Linked DNA regions of Homo sapiens: region 2 is linked to region 1. Evidence: fine-mapped expression QTL. Tissue or cell type: whole blood. Region 1 holds a variant in brackets; the other region holds the start of a gene. All regions are shown on one strand. Distances are between the middles of the regions.

The links. PIP is the estimated chance that this variant, and not a neighbour inherited with it, causes the effect.
Region 2: GPR160 starts here. The variant in region 1 is fine-mapped to the expression of GPR160 in whole blood (INTERVAL, PIP 0.99).

Annotation. Positions count from the first base shown.
Region 1 is chr3:170,448,051-170,456,159 of GRCh38, forward strand. No RefSeq gene overlaps it. Among named protein-coding and RNA genes, the nearest start is that of SLC7A14-AS1, 15 kb to the right of the region's middle. The variant C/A (reference allele first, on the strand shown) is at 4,044.
Region 2 is chr3:170,033,974-170,042,082 of GRCh38, forward strand. GPR160 (G protein-coupled receptor 160) reads left to right here and starts at 4,022. Exons shown (of 4, transcript NM_014373.3): 1 at 4,022-4,242; 2 at 4,942-5,070. RefSeq lists silencers at 3,997-4,476, 4,787-4,836, 4,997-5,046 and an enhancer at 4,902-5,401.

The DNA of each region.
Region 1 (8,109 bases):
TATAGACTCATATTCTCTACCACGTCACAAACAGATTTTCAGGAAATAAGGGGAATTCTCTATGGAAGGAAATAAACTCTCTCGTAGGCCTTGAGGTCCTAATTAATGACAGGGATGTATGCAGAAAGTAAAGGCACACACAAATACTTTTTGGTAGGTGTGGTTCACTGGGGGCAGCACTTGTTAGCAAGTCCCAGTGTTGTTAAGGCAAGGGAATGGACAGTGTTCAGGCTATAGATTTGGTTGGCAAACGAAATGCCAAAACGAGTGGGTATGCTCTGTTTTCAGCAAAGAAATCACTGGGCTGGAAAACCCTCAAAATATCAATCATACAACAAGACCTCTTTAGGAAAACAATATTAGGATTTTTGCACATAGCCCTTTTGAAGTTAACCAGTTTTGGCTTAAAACTTGAAAATAAAACAAGAGTGCACACTAGATCAAGAGGTCTTTTTAAGCCACTTTTGATCCTGGAAGACCCCTAGAGAGAAGACAGAGCCTTGGTATTGTTAAAAAAAAAATTGGCCTCAGGATGGAAAAGAAAGAGAGCCAGGATTCTGATTTCTCAGTCCTGTACTTTCCCTCCAAGGGAGGGTGCTGGGCCAAGCTGTGGCTGGGAGGCCATCAAAGACTCCTTCTGTGTATTAAGATTTGGAATTTATTTCTGATGTCATGATAAGGACAAAAGAATCTTGCACTGTGTCAGGCTGGGGTAGCTGCTGTGCTCCTGATGGGGAGAAGGATTGGGTAAGTGTCCTCCTGGAGGGCCACCTCCAAAGCCAGGCGTTGTCTCCGGAACAAATCCAACTTTCACTTCGTAGCCTGTTAGAGAGTTTTTCCCCATGAATACCTCTGAACCCTCCTTGAACCCCATAATGTTTCAGCTAGCAATGTCACTTGAAGTTAACAAGTTCCATATGTTTGCCCCCACCACAGTGAAAGTTGTTTTTCCTTTTATTTCTTCTCCAATTGTCTCCTGTCCCTTTGCCCCATCCATAGTTCATTTGGTTGCCATCAAATTTGCTCTCCTCGTCTCATTAGGTCATTAAATGAATTCCAGCACCTGAAAAGAGCAGTTTTTAAGATTCAAGTTTTGCTGAAGAATTGAGGTAAAATATTTTGTGGGCAACTGAAGATATGGGTACAGCAATAAGTGCATTAGCTTCACGTGCATCCGCCTTCTAACCTGTTAAGCGGAAACAAAAGTTCCACGGGATGCGTGAGAAGAAAACAAAACATGTTTCAATCTCATTTTCAAACACTAAATTGCTATATAATGATAAGTGATAAAAATGCCTCTAATTTCCATCTATTTTTTTTTTCAATAACCAGCTGGGCATTTTTTAGAAACTTAGAATTCATCCTATTATGAATTCAAATTAGTGTGTTCTTAGGAAAGATACTAGAATGTGCCTTTGTTCTGTCAAATGAATTTATTTTTTAATGATCAGATCTTGAGAGTTTGCTAGAAAATGCCACTAAACTTCAAGATATAATTCTTCTCTAATATACTTTCTTATATGGATAGATAATTCCACATTTTTGTCTTTTAACCAGTGGTGTAGCTTAAATATTAGGCCACCGAAATTTTTAGAGAGGATTTCTCTCTGTTTGATTATTATAAAAAAACAGACCATGGCCTCCCAACAGTTTCTTTTTCTCTTCCCGTCCCCCCCTTTTTATATCTTTCTTCACATTTTATGTATAGGACTCATGCCATTTTTTATATCTATACTATTAGATCTTATAAGAAGATTCTCATTCTGCAAACTTTTATTAACTACCTCCTCTGGCAATAAATGTCCATACTTATGTTTATTTAATTGTATAAAGATGTGCAGCTGTAATAATGTATCATGTACAGCATAAAATGTACACAAAAAGTTAAATAATAGGAAAAAATGAAATAACATTTTAATTTTATTTCATATTATTTATTAATGATACAAGCTTTTTTCTTTTTTGTTAGTAATATTTTAGTGAGATCAATATTTGAACCTACTTCATTATTTAATATTTGGGATAAAAACATTCAAAGGTCTGATTCTTAGTTCAGTTAATTTTATTACTTGGTTTCAGTGGCTGCTTTAGCTGAAAAAAAAATCTTATATGGATACATAGAACCATACAGCAGAAACACATAATCATATCGTTATACCCTGCGTCAAAGGGTATAATGCAAAGATTTATATTAAACATTTTGCAAAGATTTACATTAAAATTTGGCAGTAGTTTCTCCATTTTCCTTGATGCCTTTCAGTTGTTCTTGCAAGCTAATCAGAATATGTTGCATTTCTTTTTCTTTTCTTTTCTTTTTTCTTTTTTTTTTTTTTTTTGAGATGGAGTCTCACTCTATCACCCAGGCTGGAGTGCAATGGTGCAATCTTGGTTCGCTGCAGCCTCCACCTCCCAGGTTGCAGCAATTCTCCTGCCTTAGCCTACCAGGTAGCTGGGATTACAGGCACACGCAACCACGCCCAGCTACTTTTTTTCAGTAGAGACGGGGTTTCACCATGTTGGCCAGGCTGGTCTCAAATTCCAGACCTCAGATGATCTCCCTGCCTTGGCCTCCCAAAGTGCTAGGATTACAGGTGTGAGCCACTGCACCCGGCTGCATTTTTGTATTTCTAAAAAATGGCTTGAAAGCCCATGGAGACTCTTGATTTGTAAGATTACTTAACCACGTTTAAAAATTCTAAATTTTCTGTATCTATGATAGGACTATTTTTATGGATGACACATAATATTTTCATTAATAAGATAATATACCTGTCCAAATATCTTTGTTCAAAATGGTCTCTCCATAGAACTCATTTCATTTGAAAAGCAATTAAAAGCAATTGCTTTCTCATGAGTTCACGGATTATTTCTCATAAAATCACAGATTAACAGTGCTTATTTTTATTTTATTTATTTATTTATTTTTTTGGAGACAGAGTCTCACTCTGTTGCCCAGGCTGAAGTGCAATGGCACGATCTCAGCTCATTGCAATCTCTGCCTCTGGGGTTCAAGCGATTCTCCTGCCTCCACCTCATAAGTAGCTGAGATTACAGGCGCCCTGCACCACACCTGGCTAATTTTTTATGTTTAGTAGGGATGGGGTTTCACCACGTTGGCCAGGCTGGTCTCAAACTCTTGACCTCAGGTGATCCACCTGCCTCGTCCTCCCAATGTGCTGGGATTACAGGCGTGAGCCACTGTGCCCAGCCTTATTTTGTTTTGAAATTCTTGTTACATGGCAAACTTTTGTATTTTTGGCTCCACTGTTTTCACTGCAATGGCTATTTTATGGTATCTTTGCAGGAATCTTTTAAAATGACTAGTTGTTTTTTATGGGGTTAGTTTAGAAGAAACAAATAATGCAATGTAAACGTCTACTTAAATGGGCATTTATAATCTAACAACTATCATATCTCAAATGAAGAGTGATGGTGGCACTGCCCACCTCTCTTCATTGATGAGGATCCTTTATCCTCGGGAGCACCTGATGACCCGCATGGTCATCAGACCACAGAAGGATGCTCTGATGAATACGTGATTCCATCTAAATCCATAGTAAACTCCATGATACAATACAATACGATACAAATTAGGCCTTACATATTAAATATGAGGCTTAATTTTTCTTAATCCTGAGATTAAAAACATTTTAGAAAATTAAATAATATTTTCTTTTTTGTATCTTTTTGGAGGCTTCTGATCCACAGGGGAAGAGAGAGAGAGACATATAAACCAATAACTGTATTCAACATGTAAAATGCTATGTACATGAAAAAAAGACTGCTATGGGAACTTGTGGGGGAGGAAGGGAGACAGAGGGCAAATTCCAGAAAGTCAAAGAGAGGAGATACTTTTGAGACGAAGTTGAAGAATAAATGGGAGTATGCTGAACCAACAAGTGGGCCAAGGACATTCAAGAAGACACAAGAAAAGAGAGTGTGCTCAGGAAACACTGAGGAGCTGGTTGAGGTCAGGATATAAGATGCCTGGGGGAGGGGCAGCCATGAACCTGGAGAGCTGGGTGTGATGCGGCTGTGAGGGG[C/A]TTTGCTCTGTTGGCAGTAGGGAGCCACTGAAGATTTTAAGGGGAAAAATGACCTTAGTGAAGGATATATTTCATTTACAAATCATGAACCATATACACATTTTATACATAATTACATTTTTGGCAGATGTGGATAAAATTCTGTTCGATCTGATTTAACAAATAATTATTGGCCATTATGGCAAGCGGTATCCCCAGATTTGGTGGAACAATTAAGCTGAATATTTACAGTGAAATACACAGATGTATGCATTTGTCCTTTAAAATTGTAATTTTCTGGAAATCTTTGACATCTGGAACAAATTCACACTAATATTTAGTCCTTAACAATATATATGTTTGGGGTTTATGTTGTAGCACTATGTTATGAATAAGGCAGTGTTATGACATTCTTCAGAGATCAATGACATCTAAGTTCAAGGCTGACCTATAGATATGGTATTCTATGCTATCATGAAGGTGACCATATTTCCAGAACCCCCATACACTTTTCTTCCTAACTGAGAATTTATATGTATGAAATGATTAAATCATACTTACATCCTGAAAGAAACAAAACAAAACCAATATGTATGTAGGCCAGACATCCAAGCTAATGAACTCTGAGTGTGACTTCCTTCTGCTGATGGAATATAAGCATCCTAAACCTATATATGCCATGTAGAGAGAGTGGCCTGTGTATGATGTGGCCTTGAGAGGCTAGCTTCTATTATTTGTGTCATTGTTTGGAAAAAGGTGCCAGGATGCCTTCTTGGTTTGTCAGTGAGAACATGACAAATATTTGAAAAGGCCCTTCTGTCATAAGAAATAAAGATTATTTTTATTTCTGATTAGAAAAGTAAAATATGCTTTGAAGAACAGCTAGAGAAAACAAAAAAGTATGAAAAAGAAAATGCAAAACCACCCCAAATCAGAATTTTTAGAGGTAACAATCATTAACACTTTATATAATCTTCTTCCAAATATTTTTCTATGCTATATAACATACACACTTATTCAAAACTAAATATATACTAAATATACATTTTGCATCCTACTTTTACAATTTAACATAATTGCCATTCCTTATGTCATTAAACATTCTTTGAAAACTTGTTTTTAGATGGCTATACAGTATTGAGTTTTATAGATACACCATAATTAATTTAAACAATTTCTAGTTTGGGGCATTAAGTCGATTTCAATTTTTTTTTTGGTATTTTTTTCCCCTGTAGTTACAGATAAATACATCTGGTGATTTATTTTCTTAGGATCATTTTCTAAAAGTGATTAAAGGATCTGAATTCTTTCAGATAGAACTGTTGAATATTTAAACAGAGTGATTGAAATTGTTCTCTGCTTTTGGCGGGAGCATAGCGAGGGTATCTGGATGATGAGGGAAAACTTAACTCCTTTTTTTTTTTTTTTTTGAGACACAGTTTCGCTCTTGTTACCCCAGGCTGGAGTGCAATGGCGCTATCCCAGCTGACTGCAATCTCCGCCTCCCTGGTTCAAGCGATTCTCCTGGCTCAGCCTCCTGAGTAGCTGGGATTATAGGCGTCCGCCACCACGCCTGGCTAGTTTTCGTATTTTTAGTAGAGACGAGGTTTCACCATGTTGGCCAGGCTGGTCTCGAAGTCACTCAAGTTATCTGCCCTCCTCGGCCTCCCAAAGTGCTGGGATTACAGGTGTGAGCCACTGCACCCGGCCGGAAAACTTAACTTGTATGTATTCACTCCTTCAGGAAATATTTATTGAGTGCCTCTTGTGCCCCAGGCTCCGCACTAGGTGCCAGCGTGCAGCAGGAAGCAGGAGAGCACGTTCACTGCCCTCCTGGCTTGCCTGCATTTACATAGACAGCAATGGCGATCCTGGTCTCTCTAAGTCCGAGCCTCTTTGCTCCACCCCCCCGCCCCCCCACCGCCATCTCTCCCCTCAGAGTGGTCCTTGGGGATTTCACTTCAGGGCAGGTTTATGGTGTCTTCCAGTCCTTGTTGTATTTAGCGCTATCTTGGGGAAAAGTTGTGAAGTATGTCTTTGGGACCCTGGCCTCTCCCTTCTGTACTTGAGTCCCCTTAATTCCCTCTCAGGCACCCAGGGACCTCAGAATATTTTTTCTCATGGCTTGTGAAGACCTGCTTTCTCAGAAGGAACTGATGATGTCAGTCGTTCATATCTCAACGTGGGTGAATTAAGACGCTGTGTTCCTTCTTCCAGGGGGAGTTAACTGTGAAGGCACTTAACAATCTCCTTATTGAGGAACGCGGGACTTTGTTTCCAATGGAGGAATTTCTGGCATCAGAGAGCAGATAGGGCAGAGGTGCTTTCTTCTGCGGCTCCTCAAGGCTCACAGCTTGCTATGGAAGCATCCTTGGAGGACATCTCCTTCCCTGCCCTTTCCATCAACGTTGGTTAATCCAATCTCCACCTTCTCTTAAAAGATTGACATGACGAGTGAGGAAGCCAAGGACATTGCATCCGCATCTTAAACTTAATCTCAGTACATGAAAGGGGCTGCTTTGGAAATAGAGCTTCATGAAACAGGGAAATCCCGTGGCCAGGAAACCCCTCGCTCCTCCCCACCCCACCCTGTGAGGAGTGTCTCCACTAGGAAGGAAATTAAATCAGTCTTCCAGCCACCAGAATTGAATTGGGATGGACTATTTCCTCTTTGGATTATGTTCCAAATTGCATTCCTGTTGCTCTGTTTGAAGTTAGAGTCAGAAATCATTCGTATTTCCCCTCTCTGAAGGAAAGCCTGCTGCAATGCTTATCTCATCGAGTTAATTGACCTACAAAGGGCTCATTCCTTCCTAAAAACACTCTGCATGGCTCTGATGGGTAAGCATCAGGCTAACACATATATATAATAAAAGTTCGAAAAGTTTGAATTTTTAGGTTTTAGAAATGGGAGCATGTGGTTTTCTCTCTGAGCCTCAGAGCTGGGTGTTTTTTCTGCCCTGGATTTGATTGAGGCTGATGAGAGCATGGAAGGGCCTACCCTCAGGTGGGGAAAGAGGAGGAATTTGAGAATTTGGCACAGAAAGGGCTCTCTTTGCCAGTCAGCGAACTGTTGATAGCTGGGAATAAAATGTGGAAGAACTGTTTGGCTTATGAAGATCTCCTAAATTTCTAATCAAGTATTTATTATTTTTTAAAATTTCAACTTTTATTTTAGATACAGGGGTCCATGTGCAGCTTTGTTACATGGGGTTATTGCGTGATGCTGTGGTTTGGAGTATGGGTTCCATCACCCAGGTAGTGAGCATAGCACCCAATAGGTAGTTCTTTCCCCAACCCCAAGTAGTCCACAGTGTCTGTTGTTCCCATATTTATATCCATGAATGCTCAGTGTTTAGCTCCCACTTATAAATGAGAACATGTGGTATTTGGTTTTCTGTTCCTATGTTAATTTTTTTTAAGATTATGGCCTCCAGCTGCATCCATGCTGCTGCAAAAGACATGATTTCATTCTTTTTTACAGCTGCATAGTATTCCATGGTATATCTGTACCACATTTTCCTTATACAATCTACCATTGATAGGGCACCTGGGTTGATTCTATGTCTGTGCTATTATGAATGGTGCAGTGATGAATGTACAAGTTCGTGTGTCTTTTTGGCAGAAGGTAGAACAATTATTTTTTTTGGGTATATACCCAGTAATGGGATTGCTGGGTCAAATGGTAGCTCTGTTTTTTTTTTTTTTTTTTTTTTTTTTTTGAGATGGAGTCTCGCTGTGTTGCTCAGGTTGGAGTGTAGTGGTGTGATCTCGGCTCACTGCAACCTCTACTTCCTAGGCTCAAGTGACTCTCCTGCCTCAGCCTCCCAAGTTGCTAGGATTACAGATGTGCGCTAGCACATCTGGCTAATTTTTGTATTTTTAGAGATGGGATTTCACCATGTTGGCCAGGCTGTTCTTGAACTCCTGACCTCAAGTGATCCACCCATCTCAGCCTCCCAAACAGCTGGGATTACAGGAGTGAGCCACTGTGCCCGGCCTGTTTTAAGTTCTTTGAGAAATCTCCAGACTGCTTTTTACAGTGGCTGGACTAATTTATATTCCCACGAACAGTGTGTAAGTGTTC
Region 2 (8,109 bases), 410 kb before region 1:
TCGGAAGTACCACTGGACTCTGGATTTCTAGGAGCTCTGGGCACCACTGTTGATGCATTTTGCTACAAGGAGGCAGGGAAAGATAGTCTTTGTTCCACGAAGCTCTGGGCTTAGCTTCAGTTCTATTACAGCCCCTTAATGACAGGGATACATTCTGAGAAATGCGTCTTTAGGCAATTTCATTTTGTGAACATGGAGTGTACTTACACAAACTTAGATGGTATAGCCTACTACACACCTAAGTTATATGGTATAGCCTATTGCTTCTAGGCTGCAAACTTCCACAGCATGTGACTGTACTGAATACTGTAGGCAACTGTACTGAATACTGTAGACAACGGTAAGAATTTATGTCTCTAAACATAGAAGAGGCACAGTAAAAATACAATATAAAAGATAAAAACGGTATACCCGTATAGAGCACTTACCATGAATGGAGCTTGCAGGGCTGGAAGTTGCTGTGGGTGAGTGAATGAAAAGGCCTAGGATATTACTGTCCACTACCGCAGACTTTATAAACACTACATTTAGGCTACACTAACAATAAGTTAATCTTGGCTTACTGTAACTTTTTTACTTTGTAAACTTTAAATTTTTTTTTAACTTTTTGACTCTTTTGTAATAATACGCCTTAAAACACAAATACGTTTCAGCTGTACAAAAATATTTTCTTCTATTCTTATTCTATAAGCTTATTTTTCCCATTTTGAAAATGCATTTATTTACCTTTTAAACTTTTTTTCTTAAAAACAAAGGTGCAGGCCTACACAGGGTCAGTATCATCAAGATATCACTAGGTGATAGGAATTTGTCAGCTCCATTCTAACCTTGTGAGGCCACTGTTGTAGATGTGATCCATTGTTAACCAGAATGTCATTGCAGCACATGACTTTATTACAGAAGAAGGAAAGAATGGACAGTGGGGAGCAACCAAGGTCTCTGTCTGCCACAGTTCCTCCACCAGCCCCTGAGACAGAGTTCCCCTCAGGAGGAGTCTGGTATGCGGACCCATGTACACATCATCTCTAGACAGAGAGACTTCAGGGCAGTTGTTGACATCGGCTTAAGAAATGGTGGGAGAGTGGCAGGCACTTGGGGATGCTGAAAGTATTTGAAGATAAATCCAGCCTCCCAGATCCGCCTGGAGAGAGGCATTGACAGGGCAGCCTGGCTGCTCAGAGCTACCCTACCCCAGCCTTGTCACTAGCAATATGTCTCTCCTTCCTGGGTCTCAGTCTCATTTTCCTCTTCTTTTTTTTTTTTTTTTTTTTTTTTGAGACAGAGTCTCGCTCTTGTCGCCCAGGCTGGAGTGCAATGGTGTGATCTCAGCTCACTGCAACCTCCGCTTCCCAGGTTCAAGTGATTCTCCTGCCTCAGCTTCCTGAGTAGCTGGGATTACAGGCGCCCGCCACCATGCCTGGCTAATTTTTGTATTTTTAGTAGAGACGGGGTTTCACCATGTTGGCCAGGCTGGTCTCAAACTTCTGACCTCATGCAGTCTGCCCACCTCAGCCTCCCAAAGTGCTGAGATTACAGGTGTGAGCCACTGTGCCCGGCTCTCATTTTCCTCTTCTATAAAGGAGAGTAATAACCCTACCTTGCAGGGTTGGCGTGAGGCTCGTTTGAAGTTATGTATGTCCAGCTCCTGTTCTATACTATCCACTCCCTAGATGATGGTTATTTTTGTTATGAGTATGATTTGGCCCCCATGCCCTCTGCTCTAACTCAACTCCCATCCTCTCCCTCTCAGGTCTTCTGACCCACTTGCCATTCCCTTATTAGAACATGAACTCTCTGCCTGGCTTTCCACTTCCCACTTTGCACACGTTGGAATCTTGGCGGAAGCACCTCACATCCCGTTGAACCCGGTACTCCTCTGTGATTCAGTTGGCCTCTGCACTTCTCCAGGAAGTTCTCTCTGCCACTCCAGGCCAGGTGAAGCTGCTCCTCAGTCTCCCTAGCAACCCACACTTAATTCTATCAGGGTTCTTCTTGCACCCTTGGGCAATTACTGAGTTCCTTGCAAGGCTAGTCCAGACTCTCAGTGTATAAACCACCCTTGAGGTAACTAATTCCATCTTAGAAAAACCCTCCATTTTATATTTCATGGGCACTTTGCTAACAAGGATAAGATGTTTTGCTTGACGAACAAATTTTAAAAAAGAACACAAACAAGCACACTCATCCACTATAAGTTCTCACCAGAGGACCCTCTGACTGTAAAAGAGCGAAGCCTTCAGCTTGGCTGTCTTCACTAACACCGTCTTGCAGTCACTCATGATAAGAACTCAGAATTTGCCACCGAAAGCTCTGCCACATCAAAGACTCTTCCTTGCAAGACCACCAGGCCCAGACCAGGACTCCCTTTGTCTTCTTCCCTCCCTTTGGACTGGTTCATTAACCCTTTCTCCTCTTCTTCGTCTTGATGTTAAATATTACTTTGTTGTGGAATGTTTAATCTACAACATTCGTATAGTGATTAAGTATACTAGTATGTATGGTTTGCAATATTTACTGACTTATGGAGTGGCTTGAACCTATGTGCTCTGACTACAGAGTGAATGGGAAGGACTAAGGAGAATTGCCTCCTTGGGAACTCCATGTAGCTCCTGGATTTTGTGATTGAAATAGCATTTAAAAAAAAAAAAAGACTGACATTGTGGAGAGATACAAACGTGTATGGACATGGTCATCTTTAATCTCTAACTGCTATGACACTCAGAGAGGTTGAGAGGCTCAGGACACTCCCCTTGTTCAAGGCTCTGCGTGAAGAGGAGAAGGAAGAAATTGTGCAATATTTTATTTTATTTTATTTGTTTCAGATGAAGTCTGTCTCTGTTGCCCAGGCTGGAGTGTAATGGCGTGATCTTGGTTCACTGCAACCTCTGCCTCCTGGGTTCAAGTCATTCTCCTGCCTCAGCCTCCCAAGTAGCTGGGACTACAGGCATGTGCCATTACGCCCAACTAATTTTTGTATTTTTAGTAGAGGCAGGGTTTCACCATGTTGGCCAGGCTGGTCTTGAACTCGTGACCTCAAGTGATCCACCCGCCTCGGCCTCCCAAAGTGCTGGGATTACAGGCTTGAGCCACTGCGCTGGCCTAATTGTTCGATATTTTAAATGTTTAAATGACCGGCAAGTCGTAGGTGCTCAACAAATATTTGTTGAATGACAACAAATTAGCACTGTTGACACAAAAAAGGCAATGCAATATATGGGCTATTTAATATTTGCAGATTTTTATTTAAAAATCTGAATTCACAGTACACTGCAGGCGGTTGCTTAGAAGCATACAAGTTTCAAGAAGTTCTGTCACCCTGTGTATACTCTTTTTTTTTTTTTTTTTTTTTTTTTTTTTTTTTTTTGATACGGAGTCTTGCTGTTGCTGCCCAGGCTGGAGTGCAGTGGTGCGGTCTTAGCTCACTGCAACCTCCGCCTCCTGGGTTCAAGCGATTCTCGTGCCTCAGCTTCCCAAATAGCTGGGATTACAGGTGCGTGCCACCAAGCCCGGCTAATTTTTGTATTTTTAGTAGACATGGGGACCAACGTGGACCATGTTGGCCAGGCTGGTCTCAAACTCCTGACCTCAAGTGATCCGCCCACCTTGACCTCCCAAAGTGCTAGGATTACAGGCATGAGCCACCGCCTGGCCACCCTGTGTAAACTCTTATCTGGAGACAACTGCCAAGTTTACATTTGCAGAGGTAAGGGAAGGAGAGGCCCTGACCCAGTGGCCCCCGCTCGCCCGCCTGCTGGGGAGATGGGGAGCTCCTAGGACAGGGGCCGGGTCCTCAAGATGTGGCATGAGGAAGGGGGTCTCACTGAGCCCCCAAGCGGCTCCCGCACTGCGCACCCCTGGCTGCGTCCCTCTGCCAGCCTCAACTCAGCCCTCTCCTAGCCGGCGGGGGGTGACAGTCTCTGTGATATCTTTCCGTCCCGCCGGCAGGCGGCGCCCTCCGGCCCTTGTTTCGTTGGGCCCGGACGGGACGTGCGCGCTCAAAGGTTGCCCGTCTCTGACGCCCGCATTTCCTGGTCTGGAGCCGGCTGAGCCACAGCAGGGTCGCCGCGGGGTCCCGGGGCCGTGCTCCCCTGCCCCTCCCGGGAGCGCGCGGGGCGGGGCGGGGCGGGGCGGGACCAGGCGGGCGAGCTGGGCCCTCGCCCCTCCCTCGGGCGGTCACCTGGGCACGGGCGCTGCAGGTGTCGGGGCCTCAACCTTGCGGAGCCGACAGCCATCGATCCTCGGGTGAGTGCGGGCGCAGGTGGAGGGCGCCCGGCGCTCTCGCCACCGGCGTCCCAGCCTCGGGGCGGCGAACGGTCCCCGCGCCGCTCCCAGCCTCCCTGGCCGGGCGTTCAGCGCGCCTGGGAGGGGAAGGAATTTCCTTTGCAGGAACTCAGGGGCTGGGGGTTCTCTGCTACTTAAGAGATCCAGGAGTGGAGCCCGGACGCCCGAGCCTTCCTGCTTCGGGATGGGGATTACCGCGGAGCCTTAGCAACTGGGGTCTGTCGTGGGTTTGAGGGCAGGGGGTCTGGGGAATGGGCGTGTCCCGCACCCAGAGACTCGCCACCCTCTCTCCAGGGGAGATGCTTTTTAAACATGACAAACCCAGCAAGGTTATAGAAATGGGTGTATGCAACTCTTCGCTCTTTCCTGGCGCCCAGAGGTGAATAGTCTCACACACACGCGCGCGCGCGCGCGTGCGTGCATTCATTGGGGCCGACTTTGCCTCCCCTCCCCTGGCCTCGAGCGTTGGGGACGGCGCCCCCGCCCGCGCCCGCCACTGGGATTAAGCCCCAGGGCCTTGCCCGGCTATTTGTTTTCCGAGGCCGTTGCGTCCGGGTAGGTTCCTGGATGACCATCCTGGCTGGCTCAAAATTCCCTCTAGATTACCTGCGACCACCCCCAGGAACCCGGAGACTGAAACTCCTTTTCTCACCTGCGCAGGTGGCCTCGAGGTGGTGGCAGGGCCGCCCCCTGCAGTCCGGAGACGAACGCACGGACCGGGCCTCCGGAGGCAGGTTCGGCTGGAAGGAACCGCTCTCGCTTCGTCCTACACTTGCGCAAATGTCTCCGGTAAGGGGAAGTGTCGCTTAAATCCCAGAGATAACCCCCACCGAGAAGCATCACAAAAGACATGAACGAGTGTTTAGCTCTCAGGATTGTTATTGCTTCGAGTGAAATGGTTTCTTGTGTGCTTTTGTGCATTTATATATAAATATAAACATATATGTATACATTTGACAAGCTCTAAGACCGGCACTTGTGATATCTCCAGAATAGAGTTATTATAGTTATTTGGAAATTGTCAGTGAGGATCAGCTTGGTTGCTATGCGAATTGCAGGGAGGAGGACCTGTGTGCAGTTTCAAAACGATTTAAGAGAAATTCGGTGGCAATACAAGGTGTGGACGTTGGTTGGATCCTGATTTGATGAATGTTTTTTAAAATGGAGATGATGCCCGAGTGCGGTGGCTCACACCTGTAATCCCAGCACTTTGGGAGGCCGAGGTGGGTGGATCACCTGAGGTCAGGGGTTCGAGACCAGCCTGGCCAACATGGTGAAACCCTTCTCTACTAAAAATACAAAAATTAGCTGGGTGTGGTGACACGCGCCTGTAATCCCGGCTACTCGGGAAGGCTGAGGTAGGAGAATCGCTTGAACCCGGGAGGCGGAGGTTGCAGTAAGCCGAGATGGCGCCACTGCACTCCAGCCTGGGAGGCAGAGCGAGACTCCGTCTCAAAATAAATAAATAAATAAGGAGACGATGAAGGACATTTCTACTGATTATTTGATGGTATCAAGGAAATTATAATAGTTCTGTTTAGTTACTTTTGGTAACGGTATCCTGATTAAGGTTTTTAAAATCCCTGTAGAGACACAGACTGAAGTTGAAATACAGCTTTGGGATTTGCTTCAGAATTATTCAGTTTTAGATGCTAGCAGAGAAGGGAGGGGAACAAGATGAGAGGAGATTGTTCATGGATTGTTAATAGTTGAAGCTGGGAAGAACACATGGACACAGGCAGGGGAACTTCAGGCACGGGGGCCTGTCGGAGGGTGGGGGGAAAGGGGAGGGAGAGCACTAGGACAAATACCTAATGCATGCAGGGCTTAAAACCTAGATGACGGGTTGATAGGTGCAGCAAAACACCATGGCACATGTATACCTATTAACAAACCTGCACATTCAGCACCTGTATCCCAGAACTTAAAGTAAAACAAAAATAAAAATAGTTGAAGCTGGATGATGGTTATGGAAGTCCTTATGCTATTGTTTCAGTATTTGTGTGTGTTTGGCATTTTCCTTTAAACAGAACACCACCACTTGTGGAGCTTTTTTGCATAAGGTAGGTTTGGCACTGCAGCCGAGTCTAGATGCAAGGTCTTCCGCAGACGCTCGTTCTTTGTAAATTGGGTGTCAAGGCTGCTTCTCCAGACTCGGTCATAAAAAGTTTTTTTCTCCCTACTGGAGGTGCCGATTTATTTTGCTCAGAAGGCAGAGGGTGTTTGCTGAGTGTGACAAAGCTGAGCGGATCAAGTTGATGCAGGTGGAGGCTAGGTCAGCTTTTTTTACACAAAGGGCATTAGCAAGCCTGGGGGTTGATTGCCTCCGGTCGGGCGGATTGTATAAAACGTGTTAGCAGTTTTTCCTAATTGCCCAAATCCCTTCCAAGTTGTGTTCATCAAAAAACAGAGTTTGCAGTAGTGAACACACGTGTCGGTATGCACTTAGGATTTATGTACACTTCTGAAAGCATTGCATGCCTCAGTAAAAAGTGTATATGATGAAAACAAAGCACAAGATGAGTAGAGGGCTGCTTATTGCTTGAGAGAGAGCTTAGCTGTGTTGTGTTGCCTATTTCATCTTTATCTTGTTTGCTTCAGCGATCATGACATGTAAATATTTAGCAAAGCACTGACTCCTAAAAGTTCTGCATGGTGGTAACACATTTTTTTTAAGAATCATGCTTGAAAGAGGGTAAGGAAGGAGTAATAGCTATATCTTCATCAGGCTTGCTCCAGATTTCTTTTCTCCAGATTTAGCCTATAATTCCTACTCATTCTGTCATGCTTGGTCAGTACTTTGGAATAGTGATTCTGAGAGGGAGCTGTTGAAGTTAGTAGAGGGAGGAAGGGGAGGTATATTTCCAAAAGGTAAATCCACATTTTTTAGTCGCTTCAGTATAACTGAATGTAATGCCTTTTGATTTAAAGATAAAACAAGTCAAAGAGATGAGATCTGGGACAGTTAAAAGTTGAAGTGTTCGGTGAATCTCCCCGGCGTAGACCTTGCTCGTGTAGATTCACTAGTCTAAAGGATGTAAAGATTTTTTTTTTTTTTTTTTTTTGAGACGGAGTCTTGCTCTGTCACCCAGGCTGGAGTGCAGTGGCGTGATCTCGGCTCACTGCAAGCTCCACCTCCCGGGTTCACGCCATTCTCCTGCCTCAGCCTCCCGAGCAGCTGGGACTACAGGCGCCCGCCACCACGCCCGGCTAATTTTTAGTAGAGACGGGGTTTCACCGTGGTCTCCATCTGTTGACCTCGTGATCTGCCCGCCTCAGCCTCCCAAAGTGTTGGGATTACAGGCGTGAGCCATCGCGCCCGGCCGTAAAGATGTTTTAAGATTCGGTTGAGGAATGCTGAAGCATGTCCTAATTTCACTGCTGTGATGGGAAAATAATGAGACAACCAACAAAAATCCCCTTACAGTGGGGGGAGATACCACAGTGAATTCATGATGGTTCTTAAATGAAGTGAAATTGTTTGGTTTGTGGCTCTGTTTTCTTGGTATGAATGAAAGAAGTATGCAACCGTCACGTAACTTTATTTTATACCTCAGTTTCCTCTCTAGTTCCCTAAAAGCATGGAAAGAGAAAAGAAACTTGCCAGGCCCTTTAGTGACCAAACTAATGTTTACTCTCCTCTGTAGGAGAGTGGTAGATTTGGACTCTGGAGAGTTGATTGCTAATAGCCATTTTAAGGACTTACCACAAATGTGACACCATTTCGCCCTGATTCACATTATTAAGGGTATGAACGCATTAGAAAAGCAAATGGCTCCCTTGTTGGGCTAGAAATGATAGGAAAGAGTGTTGGCAATCTAGTCAACA